Linked DNA regions of Homo sapiens. The protein of the gene in region 2 interacts with the protein of the main gene of each other region in a biochemical or structural test. Each region holds a gene or a part of one and is shown on either strand. Other genes may lie near its edges.

Region 1 (7,026 bases), on a different chromosome or scaffold from region 2:
AATGGCACAATCTCGGCTCACTGCACCCTCCGCCTCCCAGGTTCAAGTGATTCTCCTGCCTCAGCCTCCCGAGTAGCTGGGATTACAGGTGCCCACCACCACACCCGGCTAATTTTGTGTTTTTAGTAATGATGGGGTTTCACCCTGTTGGCCAGGCTGGTCTCGAACTCCTGACCTCAGGTGATCCGCCTGCCTCGGCCTCCCAAAGTGCTGGGATTACAGGTGAGCCTTTTTTTTTTTTTTTTTTTTTTTTTTTTTTTTTTTTTTTTTTGAGACAGGGTCTTTCTCTGTTGCCCCGGATGGAGTGCAGTGGTATGATCATAGCTCAGGGCAGCTTTGACCTCCCGTCTTAAGCAATCCTCTCACCTCAGCCTCCCAAGGAGCTGGGACTACAGGTGTACACCACTATGTGATGCTATTTTTTTTTTTTTTTTAAGTAGAGATGGGGTCTTGCCATATTGCTAGGATTACAGTTGTAAGCCACTGCACCCGGCCAGCAACCTGATCGTATAGCAGAGGAAATTGAGGGGCAGAGAGGTTAAGGAACCTGCCAAATGTCACACAGCTGGAGAAGCAGAGAAGCCAGTTGCCCGAGCTCCTCACTGCTCTGTCAGCCTGATTCTCCTCCTCGGGGAGGTCCTCCCTTTTCTTCCAAGTTCTATCAGGGTCCTCTTGTTCCCCCTGACTGTCTTCTGTGCCTCCTCCTCTGGGCTGTAGTCACCTGGATAAAAACCCATCTCCCTCACTAGGCTGTTAGCCCCTGGAAGGTAGGGACAAGAGTGGGTTGGATCATCTCTGTGTCCCCAGGGCCTCAGGTAGGGCCAGCACACAGGAGGGCTTTACACTGAGGATGAAACCCTCAGGAGGAGGCCGGGTGCGGTGGCTCACGCCTGTAATCCCAGCACTTTGGGAGGCCGAGATGGGCGGATCACGAGGTCAGGAGATCGAGACCATCCTGGCTAACACGGTGAAACCCCGTCTCTACTGAAAATAGAAAAAATTAGCCGGGCGTGGTAGTGGGTGCCTGTAGTCCCAGCTACTCGGGAGGCTGAGGCAGGAGAATGGCGTGAACCCGGGAAGCGGAGCTTGCAGTGAGCTGAGATGGCGCCACTGCACTCCAGCCTGGGCGACAGAGCGAGACTCTGTCTCAAAAAGAAAAAAAAAAAAAAAAAAAAGAAACCCTCAGGAGGGAGTGAGTTTGCCATCCCCTGAGGTAATCAAGTGGAAGCTGCAGGAGCACAGACCTCCTCTGACATTCCCTGCTAGCTCTGCGATTCCCAATCACAGAGCAGAAGCTGGTGGGGGCTTCCTCTTTGTCCTCCCCCCATTGCTACCACCTCCTTCCCCAGTGGAAGGGGTTGCCAGTGAGCAGCCGGGCAGAAAAGTCAGACTGAGCTCCAGAGCTTAAAATGTTTTCTTTTTGAGTTTTCTCTGTTGAAAGCTAGATTCTTTATTTTCCACCTTTCTCCTCTCCTAATAAATAGACTTAAAGCTACAATTTTTCCTCTCAGGGTTGCTTTGGCTCATCGCAAAGGTGGTCTTTCACTTTAATTAGCGTGCAGTTTACATTCTGACAGCCTCATCAATTACAGAGTTAATGAGAAGTCACGGCTGGGTGCGGTGGCTCACACCTGTAATGCCAGCACTTTGGGAGGCTGAGATGGGCGGATCACTTGAGGTTGGCGGATCACTTGAGGTCAGGAGTTCAAGACCAGCCTGGCCAACATAGTAAAAACCGTCTCTACTAAAAATACAAAAATTAGCTGGTTGTGGTGGTGCCCGCCTGTAGTCCCAGCTACTCGGGAGGCTGAGGCAGGAGAATCACTTGAACCCAGGAGGTGGAGCCGAGATTGCACCACTGCACTCCAGCCTGGGTGATAAGAGCGAAACTCCGTCTCAAAAAAAAAACAAAAAACAAAAAACAAAAAAAACGAAACAGAAGTGACTTTTTTTTTCTTTTTTTTTTTTTGAGACATAGTCTCGTTCTGTTGCCCAGGCTGGCGTGCACTGGCGTGATCTCTCAAAACAAGCAAGACTCCATCTCAAAACAAAAACAACAAACAAACAAAAAAAGAACCTCATAAATACTGAGACAGGTCCCCTGAGGGATGGAGACCCTTTAGGAATGTTCCTGCTCTGGGAGCCCACACTGTGGAAGGGAGGGGCCTTGGCACCTGAAATGTCACAACTAGATGCGTCCGAGTGCCGGAAAGAGACAGGAATTTTTTTTTTTTTTTGAGACGGAGTCTCGCTCTGTCACCCAGGCTGGAGTGCAGTGGCGCCATCTCAGCTCACTGCAAGCTCCGCCTCCCGGGTTCATGCCATTCTCCTGCCTCAGCCTCCTGAGTAGCTGGGACTACAGGCACCCGCCGCCACGCCCGGCTATTTTTTTTGTATTTTTAGTAGAGACGGGGTTTCACTGTGTTAGCCGGGATGGTCTCGATCTCCTGACCTCGTGATCCGCCTGCCTCGGCCTCCCAAAGTGCTGGGATTACAGGCGTGAGCCACCGAGCCTGGTCAGAGACAGGAATGTTATAAAGACGTGGATGACAGTGACCTCCCGTTTCCCGGGTATGTCGCATGGGCCAGACGGTTGCTTCACGCACATCCTACCCTTCCTCCTCCTGTAGCTCCCAAAGAACATTATTCACATCACCCCCATTGTGGAGATGAAGAAACTGAGGCTTAGAGAAGTTAAGTGATGTGCCCCAGGTTACACAGCACACAGAGCTAGACACGGGCAGGGCTGGGATCTGAACCCAGGTCTCTCCAATGCCTGAATCTGACCTCTTAATCCTAATGTTATACTGCTTCTAAAAATCCTACAGGTGGCCGGGAGCAGTGGCTCACACCTGTCATCCCAGCACTTTGGGAGGCCGAGGTGGGTGGATCACCTGAGGTCAGGAGTTTGAGACCAGACTGGCCAACATGGTGAAACACTGTCTCTACTAAAAATATAAAGATTAGCCGGGTGTGGTGGTGGGTGCCTGTAATCCCAGCTACTTGGGAGGCTGAGGCAGGAGAATTGCTTGAACTCAGGAGGAAGGGTTGCAGTGAGCCAAGATCTCGCCACTGCACTCCAGCCTGGGTGACAGAGCAAGACTCCATCTCAAAAAACAAAAATTAAAAAAAAATAAGAGGGGCCCGGCATGGTGGCTCACACCTGGAATCCCAGCACTTTGGGAGGACGAGGCAGGAGGAAAGATCACACTTGAACTCAGGAGTTCAAGACCAGCTTAGGCAACATAGTGAGACCCCATCTCTACCAAAAAAAAAAAAAAAAAAAAAAAAAAAATTAACGGCGCATGGCAGTATGCACCTGCAGTCCGATACTTGGGAGGCTGAGGCAGGAGGATCACTTGAACCTGGGAGGTCGAGGCTGCAGTGAGCCAAGATTGCACCCCGGCACTCCAGCCTGGGCAGCAGACCGAGACTCCGTTTCAAAAACAAACAAACAAACAAACAAACAAAAACAGAGGCCGGGCGTGGTGGCTCACGCCTGTAATCCCAGAACTTTGGGAGGCCGAGGCGGGCGAATCACCTGAGGTCGGGAGTTTGAGACCAGCCTGACCAACATGGTGAAACCCCGTCTGTACTAAAAATAGAAAAAATTAGCCGGGCATGGTGGTGCATGCCTGTAATCCCAGTTACTTGGGAGGCTGAGGTAGGACAATTGCTTGAACCAGGGAGGTGGAGGCTGCAGTGAGCGGAGATCGCGCCATTGCACTCCAGCCTGGGCAACAAGAGCGAAACTCCATCTCAAAAAAAAGAAAGAAAGAAAGAAAGAAAGAAAGACACCCCAGAGAGGACCCTTCTGAAGACAGAAAAGCAAGAGGATAAAATCTTCCTAGAAAACGACGCCATGGGAATGGAGACCCTACAGAAAGGAGACGAGTCTCCTGCAGAACCAGAAGATCCCATGGAGATGGGAACCTGGTTAAAAAAAAAAGTAACCTCAAGAAGGACCCCAATGAGAAGGGATCCGGCATCTCAGGACCTTCTAGAGGGGAAGAGGACAAACAGGGTCCCTACAGACGAGGGATTCTATGACAGATCCCAGGAAGAGGCGCCCTGTTGATCAGAGTCACTACTGAGTCCATCCTGCAGCTCGGGGACCCCACAGAGATGTGGCATTCACGGCCGGAGGGCAGGAGAGTCAGGCAGGGGACAGTCTCTGCCCTCCTTCGCCGCAGCGGAACCAAAGAGATCCGAGAACGCGAACCCGGACCGTACTTCCAGCCAAGCGCAGCTCGGGACGACTACAATTCCCAGGAGGCCCCGCGGCTCCAGGCCGGCTTCCTGCCCCGCGGCGCCCGCGCAGTGGCTGCCGGAAGACGTAGTTCCCGCCACGGTGACTCAGACCGGAAGGCCGGCTCCGCCCCCGCCACCAGCCCTACCTCCTTCCATGTCCTCCGTCCAGTTGCGGCTGCTACTCGTGGGCGAGCTGGGCGAAGTGTAGTAATCGCCGCCAGGGCTCGTGTCCACGTCTTCCTCCATCGAGCCCGATTTGTGCCGCTTGCTCCTTATGGGCGAGGGAAGGGGAGAGGCTGGTTACCAGGGAGACGCGGGGCGGGGGGCGCGACGGCGGGCTTTGCTACTTCCGGTCCTTAAGTGAGCGGGGGCGAGGGAGGTAGTATCGCGAGACATCGCGGGAGCCGCGGGCGTTCAGCCCGTTCCCTACGAACGCCTGTTCCAACCTGTCCATTGCTTGGATGGGACACCCGGGCCAGAGGCAGGGAGGGTCTCAACACAGGTCGGACACCAAGCTAGCATGGTGGAGACCAAAACCCAGGCAGCCTGGCTAATCTCCTGGCCACCTGTAGTCCTCAGAACTGCCTGTTAGGGGTATGATCCCATTTTATGGATGGGGAAACTGGGGCACACACAGTGTGACCTGCTCGAGGTCACAAAGCATATCTCAGCAACAACCTGTGTCTGCATTCTTCTGGGTGGGGAGGGTCCTAAGGGCTGGCTGAGCCGGCAGGACTTGAGGCTGGGGGAGCCCACGGTGGGCTGTCAGGGCTAGGGGAAGAGGCACGTGGGGCTGGCTGGGTTTTGAAGGATGAGATGAGTAGGAGTTTCTCAGGCCAGGTGAATCGTGAAAAGAGGTATTCCAGGGAGAGGAATGAGTCAGCTCGGGCCAGAGGGGATGGGTTGATGAATGGGGTCATGAAATGCCCAGAGGTGGGGACCTGGGTACTTACCCACTGGAGGAGGTGCTGGGCAGCGTTCTTCTGAGGCCAGTGCTGGCTGGGTTCAGGTCGTATGCCAGGTGCCCCTGCAGCTCCCCCAGGGAGAAGTTGGGTCCTGTTCCAGTCACCACGGGTGCTGCAGAGGGTGACAGAGGAGAGTGAGGCAGGAAGCAGTGCCCAGTGCTGCGGTTTGCTTTAGAGAGGTAGGGAAAGCCACTGGGTGCAGTCCAAAGGGGGACCCCCTTCCCATATTGGCCCGGTTCCTAGGGTGGCTGAAACCAGTTTTATTCTATGGATCAGAGGACCAAGGCCATGGGGAGAGGCCAAGAGCACACTGTGAGGCAGAGGTGTAGCCAAAGCTGGAGGCCAGGCTCTGCTGATCTGGACAGGGAAGGTGTCAGTCAGGGCTAAAGAAGGACAGCGCCCAGGACTCGCTGGGGTGGGATTCAGACAGTGTGTGACGGAATGTGCTGGGTCCCCAGCAGGTCAGCAGAGAAAGCAAGGGGACAGGAGGGGCGGGGTCCTTTGGGGTCTCCTGGGACAGGACAGTGGAGGCCCCAGGGAGGAGGAGGGATGCTGGGGCAGAAGTTTCCTTAGTTGCCATCCAGCATTTAGATTCTGTTTCCTGGAGAGGTGGGAGGGAGCCCTGACCTTGGGCTCTGGGAAGGGCCTGGCCACCTCCCTTTCTAGGAACCTTGGCTTAGTGACACAGGGGGTTGTCTGGAAAGGACAAGGAGTAGGGTGAGGGGGGTGGGCTCCTTCCTCCCTGCGGCCCCCTCCCCTCTCCAAGACCCAGCTCAGGGCTGACGGGAACACTCACTCCGGGACACTTGGATGAGCTCAGTGACGCTGAACACGCCGGAGGTGACAAAGCTCTCCTGGAAGTCGGTCGTGTCTGGAACAGGAAGACAGCGGGGTCAGTAGGCTGAGCTGGGCCTGTTTCCCTTCCCCACACTCCAGGGCTGCCTGGACTCCTGGGGGCTGGCCCGAGCCTGGACGTTCCCCCTGTCCATCCTGTGCTGTGGGGGAATGACAGCTCCAGTCTGATGGGGAAGGCCCCGTGGGGGGTCCTTGTCCAGTGTGGGCCTTCACACAGCCTTCATCCGGGTTCCCCCATGCTGTGGAATGCTGCATTCAAGTGAACAGCAGGCCGGGCGCAGTGGCTCATGCCTGTAATCCCAGCACTGTGGGAGGCCGAGGCAGGAGGAACGCTTGAGCTCAGGACTTCAAGACCAGCCTGGGGAACACAGCGAGACCCCATCTCTACAAAAAGTGTTAAAATTAGCCAGGTGTTGTGGTCCGTGCCTGTAGTCCCAGCTACTCAGGAGGCTGAGGCTGGAGGATCACTTGAGCCTGGGAGGTGGAGGCCGCAATGAACCATTGTTGTGCCACTGCACTCCAGCCTGGGAAACAGGGCGACACCCTCTCTTAAAAAACGAGTGGAGCCGGGTGCGGTGGCTCACGTCTGTAATCCCAGCACTTTGGGAGGCCGAGGCGGGAGGATCACAGGTCAGGAGATGGAGACCATCCTGGCTAACACAGTGAAACCCTGTCTCCTAAAAATACAAAAATTAGCCGGGCGTGGTGGCAGGCGCCTGTAGTCCCAGCTACCTGGGAGGCTGAGGCAGGAGAATGGTGTGAACCCGAGAGGTGGAGCTTGCAGTGAGCCGAGATTGCGCCACTGCACTCCATCCAGCCTGGGCAACAGAGCAAGACTCCATCTCAAAAAAAAAAAAAAAAAAGAGCGGAAAGCGGAGGCCTGGGCTCACATCGGCTCCATCACCTGCCTCGGTGTGTGATCTGGGGCAGGTCACTTTCCCTCTCTCAGCCTCCA
Region 2 (7,026 bases):
TGTCCCACATGCTGCTCTCAGTAGCTTCTCACAGTGTCACTTAATAATCTAGCAGACAGACAGGTACAAAGACACGCGGACTCCTTAAGGACAGGGAAGCCTCATGAAACGTTAAACATCGTTTTTATTCCCAGCACCTACCATTGTGCCCCCCTTATAATAGACAGTAATGGTATAGTGAATGAATGAACAAATGAATGAGTTGAGAAATCCAGAATAATACATCACAAGCTACAGCGAATTTTTCTTGCTAGTGCTCAGGACAGGTGAAATGAATCATAACAGGTTGGTGTCCGTGAAAAGCTGACAGAGATGTGAGAGGTCCCACCCTGAGGCCAACAAAGACTCTGCAGCTCTGGCAGAACCACTAAGCTCTCAGCTCCTAGTCATCACATCTTTTTCCCTTAACCCTGCCAAGTCAACCAGATGAGGAGTGTCTTCAGGGTGGGTCTGTTGCCCCTCTTTGCCCATGCCGTCATTTGCTGTAGGAGTGAGGCAAGTCCATATGCCTTTAAGAACCGAGTAGGACAATGGAGATGATGCCAATAATCAGCCCAACCACTTCCAGTGACCGTCTGGGCTGCTGGTCCCGTGCCAGCACTCGCAGCTGGGCAGGCAATCTGCATCAGCAATTTTATCAGCGTTGACTGTGGCAACCACGAGCGTGCAGAGAAAGCTGACCATCAGCAGCATGGGGAGAGGGCCTGGGGTGCTCACGCACCAGTCAGCACACAGCTCCAGGAAGGAAAGGGGTTGCAGTGGGGGGCCTGCAGGAAGCTCACTCTGTGAGAGTAAGCCTGCAAAACTCAGTGTGCAGGCACCAGCCACTCAGTGAAAGTAAAGAAACCCTGCTGATGAGACTCTGGACACCCGCTGAGTCCCAGAGCCATTTCCTGGCTCCATCCCTAAGCCCCCCAAAGGACCCTGCTTGACTACAGAGCACCCCCATGCCATGCTGGCATATGAACATGGGGAATCCTGGAATGAGAAAGTCTTTGAGCTTTCAGGGACCTCCATGACCACCTTGTCCAGTTTCTCCATTTGTGTGGAGATAATCCAAGCAAGACAAGGAGGGCTTGGGCAATCAGAAGGTTTTGGAGCTCAGGCCTGCCAACCCTCATTTCATTCAGACTGGTCCACTGTCACCTGTTTCAGATATGGTGCTTCTACGTAAACACTTATTTGAAGACTGAAAAAAAAAGCATTTGAAAACCATTAAACTTCTCCAACCACTCATCTTTCAGATGAGGAGACTGAGGTCCAGCAGTGTCCATAAATTATTCATTACCTCCTCAGTCAATCATTATTCACCCAGTCATTCACCTGGAGGGTGGTGAAGGCAGGGAGAACCAGCCAGTGCAAGGGCCCCTCATGTCCTGCCTGGCCTTTGCTTTTCCTACCTCTGGTAACTGACTGTGCTGCCAAAGTAACACTCCGTGCTCTCTCACCTGGGCATAGGAATGCCCTCTGGCTTGGGGAGCCAAGAAAGAAGCACAAGTATTCATACCTGACCTTAGGACAGGTTGTAACACAGCTATCTTTTCTGCAAAATCAACAAGTGGGGGACCAGGCATGGTGGCTCACACCTGTAGTCCCAGCACTTTGGGAGGCCAAGGTGGATGGGTCACCTGAGGTCAGGAGTTTGAGACCAGCCTGGCCAACAAGGCAAAATCCCATCTCTACTAAAAATATAAAAATTAGCCAGGCCTGGTGGCGTGCACCTGTAATCCTAGCTACTCGGGAGGCTGAGACAGGAGAATCGCTTGAAGCTGGGGGGCGGAGGTTGCAGTGACCCGAGATTGTGCCACTGCACTCCAGCCTGGGTGACAGAGCGAGGCTCCATCTGAAAAAAAAAAAAAAAGGGCAGGGGGAAGTGTTCATCAGAAACATCATGTGGCCTTATTCCTGGTTGCTATTTCATGACCAGACATAGCTAGAAGTCATACAGCTCTTGTTTCCCTATTTTACAAATGCATCAAAAAAAATCAACAGAATATGAATATCAGTTTATTGACAGAAATCAAGAATTTGGTGGCTTCTGACTCTTCACGATTCTGAAATAATATCTGTGATAACTCTCATTGGGCATCTGCTGTCACCAAGTATTCGGTGCTAAGCACATTATGTATAAGTATACAAAATTTCATGTAATGCTTACGTCAGCCTCATAAAGTAGAGTCTATGATTCCCATACAGGTGAGAAAATTAAGGTTCAGAGCAGTCAAGTAGACTAAAGCTACTTGGCAGGTCATTGCAGAACCAGGGCTCAGAGTCGCTGAAGTTCTGAAGCATTGTGCTGCTCTGCCCCGATTCAAGTTCAATTCCAGCTAAAAAGCCCAATAATCACTGGGAAGTTTCAGTCATTGAATACAAAATCACCAAAAGATTTGACTATATAGGTTTTCTTTTTCCTTTTTTTCTAAGTTACTTGGATTTTGAAATAGCTATAGGATTCTGAGTAGATATTTTGCTGTCAAAACAACACATCCATAAAGCATTTTAAACTTCTCTTATACGCTCTAGAAATTAGGTATTTTGTTCAATTTCAATAAGACACACCCTGGCCAGGTGCAACGGCTCATGCCTGTAATCCCAACACTTTGGGAGGTCAAGCCAGGCAGATCATGAGGTCAGGAGTTTAAGACTAGCCTGGCCAACATGGTGAAACTCCTGTCTCTACTAAAGATACAAAAAATTAGCCTGGCATGGTAGCACGCACCTGTAATCCCTGCTACTCGGGAGGCTGAGGCAGGGGAATCACTTGAACCCAGGAAGCAGAGGTTGCAGTAAGCGAAGATCGCACCATTGCACTCCAGCTTGGGCAACAAGAGCAAAACTCCGTCTACAAAAAAAAAAAAAAAAAAAGGCCCTAAGCAACTCCACCCTGCCTCTAAGTGGGCCCCCTTGGAAGGCATGGAACCAGAGCACCATTTAGTCAATAATTGCTGCTATGTGCTAATGGTGCCCTGGTGGCCTCCAGAATTGACTGCAGCTTCCAAAAGTGCCCAGCATGCAACCGGAAAGTGCTGTGGATCTTTGCAGAACCCAGCTCGATGGAAATCACTGAAAACAATTGCCTTTAGTGGCACTGTTATGTAACTACTGAGCATTCCCTGAATTCAGCTTTGCACATCTCACGTAGCAGGTATGTGACGAGTGTGAAGGTATGTGGGGAATGGGTGTGTTCTTTTTTCTGCGCTATCTGCTTCCCCAGTGGAAGGAGGCCATGGTGAGGATGAGGTACACTTACCTTTAGTTAAACAAGTTCTTTTCGGAAGGAGTACCTAAGGTCATAGCTGTGCTCCTGGGAAGGGGAGGCCAGGAGGCATCTAAAATGAGGTCTTACTGATGAAGACCCCCAGGTACTTGACAAAGAGTGTTTCCAACAAAAACAACTCTCAATACCATTTTCAAGCCGAACTTGCACACTTCTATTTGTTTGGATGTGGAGAGAGAAAAGAAGAAATCCACGTGGTGGGTAAAGCACCTGGGTCCACAGCCGAAAAATCCCGGGTTTAGTCTGTTTCACTATACAAAATTGGGCCATTTACCTGAGTTCCAGGCTCCACATATAAAACACAGACATAATATTACTCACCCATGTCACTGGGCTGCTGGGGGACTCTACTAGGACAACAGAGGCAAAGCTCTGATATAAGCTCTTTGCAAATGTAAGAAGTGGTCCTTATGTCACCCAGTTTAGGGCAGTGGTTGAGAGCAGACACATTCTGATCCCTCGAATCTGAATCCTATCTTTGGCCCATCTGGAAGTGGGACAAGTTTCTTAAACCTTTGTGCCTGGGTTTCCTATCTGGGGAAGAATAAATTAACAGATGCAAGGACCCTGAACAGTCCGGTTGGAGACTGCTCCAGTCCTTGGCACCGTCCTGCATTCTGTGGGTCCCAACAGTGTGGTGAAACCAGGAAGCCGACCAGCCATCCAACCAGGGTGTGGTCCTCTGGCTGAGACTCTCTATCCCACGTCTGGGCACCCATGCTACCAGCTGGCCTTGAATTCCAGGGATGCGGGAGGACAATGAGCATGAACGAAACGTGCCGAGTGGAGTTGAGAACGTAAAGGAAGAAGGGGGCGATGAGGACCTCTCCTGGGGAGATGAGGGCTGCCAAGTCCTAAGACACAGGCTCAGGGTCTGCAGGAAGGTCGGCTTGTTGGATCGTCTCTGTGCGCTGACTTCTCTTTGCTCCCCAGGGCCTCTACCCGCTGCCCTTGCTCAACAGCACCCTGGACGACGGGAAGGCCACCCTGACCCCTTCCAACACGCCACTGGGGCGCAACCTCTCGACTCACCAGACCTACCCCGTGGTGGCAGGTACAACGCCCGGAGCCTCCCTGGCAGGTGGAGGGCGGGGGACTGAAGAGCTTGGCTGGCTGTCAGGCGGAAGGTGTGGGGCCCTGGCCTGGAGAGGAGAGGCGGGCTGTGCCGGCCGGGCCGCCAGGTGGGCCCAGGGGTCGCGCCTCCGGTCCTAGGCCGGGCCTCAAGGTGGGCCGAGGGGTCGCGCCTCCAGTCCTAGGCCGGGCCTCAAGGTGGGCCCAGGGGTCGCGCCTCCGGTCCTAGGCCGGGCCTCAAGGTGGGCCGAGGGGTCGCGCCTCCAGTCCTAGGCCGGGCCTCAAGGTGGGCCGAGGGGTCGCGCCTCCGGTCCTAGGCCGGGCCTCAAGCTGGGCCGAGGGGTCGCGCCTCCGGCCCTAGGCGGCTCCCGTAAGGTGGGCCGAGGGGTCGCGCCTCCAGTCCTAGGCCGGGCCTCAAGGTGGGCCCAGGGGTCGCGCCTCCGGTCCTAGGCCGGGCCTCAAGGTGGGCCGAGGGGTCGCGCCTCCGGTCCTAGGCGGCTCCCGCAAGGTGGGCCGAGGGGTCGCGCCTCCGGTCCTAGGCCGGGCCTCAAGCTGGGCCGAGGGGTCGCGCCTCCGGTCCTAGGCGGCTCCCGCAAGGTGGGCCGAGGGGTCGCGCCTCCAGTCCTAGGCCGGGCCTCAAGGTGGGCCCAGGGGTCGCGCCTCCGGTCCTAGGCCGGGCCTCAAGGTGGGCCGAGGGGTCGCGCCTCCGGTCCTAGGCCGCTCCCGGGTCTCCGCGCTCCCTCCTGTGGGAGAGGCGGGCGCACACACGCCTTCCGGGTCTCTCCATTTTCGCTGCAGAAGCGCAGCAGGGAGGTCTAGCTTCTCTCTCCCCGCCTTGCCACGCCTCGTGGGCCCCGGCTCTCCCCAGCCCAGACTCTGAGGGCAGCTGAGCCTGCCCCGCGCCCCGCCCGCACCCTCCACATCCCACGGCTTGGCTTGTGCGTGTTCCCTCCCCGCCATCTCACACCCCTCTCTCCTTGTTGTCTCCCTCCCTCCGGCAGATCCTCACTCACCCTTCGCCATAAAGCAGGAAACCCCCGAGGTGTCCAGTTCTAGCTCCACCCCTTCCTCTTTATCTAGCTCCGCCTTTTTGGATCTGCAGCAAGTCGGCTCCGGGGTCCCGCCCTTCAATGCCTTTCCCCATGCTGCCTCCGTGTACGGGCAGTTCACGGGCCAGGCCCTCCTCTCAGGTACGACAGGGAGGTCCCGGGGCCATGCAGCTATGGCGGCGGGTGGGACGGGGGTCCTCAGGGCAGACCGCCAGCCCCCTCTCTGGCCTCAGTCTCATCCACCCCCACCCTGTTCCCTAATTCCTCCGGCAACTTTTGGAGGCGCCAACATGAAGTTCTCTGTGACGGGGAAGACATGCTCGGAAGGGGCGGATGCTGTAGGGGTGCCGGGGATGCACCACCCCAAGACCCCATGGAAAAGCAGGAACCCTAAGGCCGGGAGCCGGGTGCTGTAACGTAGCAACTTGGCCTTGGTAAATGCATAAATAGATAGAAGGAAAAATGAACATTTTGGAGGGAAAAAGGAATTGGCTTTTGGAGCCCATTTCTGGATCAAATTTCTAAAAAGGCCAAGGGTCAGTCCCAGTTGTGTTTCCATGATGCAGCTATCTTCATTCCTAGCTTAACAGCATCACCGGGAGGACAGTCAGACATCTGTTAAACATGATAAATTCAGTGATTCAACAACTTGAGAGGAGTGGGGGACCTCCCATCAGGAACCTCAACTGCCTCAAAATATTTAAAGCTGGAAGCACCGACCGGGCGAGGTGGCTCACCCCTGTAATTCCAGCAGTTTGGGAGGCCGAGGCAGGTGGATCACAAGGTCAAGAGTTCAAGACCAGCCTGGCCAAGATGATGAAACCCCATCTCTACTAAAATTCAAAAAATTAGGGGGTGTGGTGGCAGACACCTGTAATCCCAGCTACTGGGGAGGCCGAGGCAGGAGAATCGCTTGAACCCAGGAGGCATAGGTTGCAGTGAGCTGAGGTGGCGCCATGGCACTCCAGCCTGGGTGACAGAGCAAGACTCCATCTCAAAAAAGAAAAAAACAAATAAATAAAAATAAGTAAATCTGGAAGCACCTGAGGGAGCCTCTAGATCAAACCTCTTATGCTGATGAGGAACCTGGCCCAGGGAGGAGAAGGTCCCTGCCAAGGTCTCTGGGCAGGAGCACCATCTGTAGCTGGTTGAGGCCTGGGCCTGCACTGCATGAGTCAGACCTCAAGGGGAGCTGGCTCCTCCTGGCAGAAGGACCTTCGCTCATCCAGCCAGGGCCTGAGGAATGGCTGAGAGTCAAGCGCTTGGCTTGGGTTGGAGAGGGCCTGAGATGCAGTGAAAGTGGGAAGCAGAGACCCATATGGTCTTCAGATACCTCAAGGGCTTCCACAGGGATAGGACTATTTTAGATGTGGGCCCAGTGGGGGCCCAGGACCAGGGAAGGAAGCCAGCTAGCTCTCAGTTCAGCATTGGAGGAATCTCTTTAATAGCGGCACTGTCTCCAAGGAGTGTGGGTATTTAGTGACAGAAGTAAATGCCTCTTCACCTCCCACACCCTCCTACCCCGACGACCTTGAAATGCTGGAGCAGAGACCAGTGCGTGGGTGGGGTGTGTGAGACCTGTCACAGAGGCAGCCCAGAGTCAGACAGTCCATCTGGACCAGTGGTTTC

What was found. The genes of interacting proteins can lie anywhere in the genome.
Region 1: the proteins of PAX8 (region 2) and NFIC form a complex in vitro, tested with the Homo sapiens proteins (one study listed by BioGRID).

What each region holds. Positions count from the first base shown.
Region 1 is NC_000019.10:3,432,579-3,439,604, reverse strand, and holds part of NFIC (nuclear factor 1 C-type), read right to left. Parts: intron 6,088-7,026; coding exon 6,013-6,087; intron 5,329-6,012; coding exon 5,205-5,328; intron 4,523-5,204; coding exon 4,398-4,522; intron 1-4,397.
Region 2 is NC_000002.12:113,233,906-113,240,931, reverse strand, and holds part of PAX8 (paired box protein Pax-8), read left to right. Parts: intron 1-89; exon of another isoform or gene 90-1,843; intron 1,844-2,719; exon of another isoform or gene 2,720-2,842; intron 2,843-4,210; coding exon 4,211-4,331; exon of another isoform or gene 4,332-4,663; intron 4,664-5,349; coding exon 5,350-5,538; intron 5,539-7,026. UniProt on the Homo sapiens protein: Transcription factor for the thyroid-specific expression of the genes exclusively expressed in the thyroid cell type, maintaining the functional differentiation of such cells.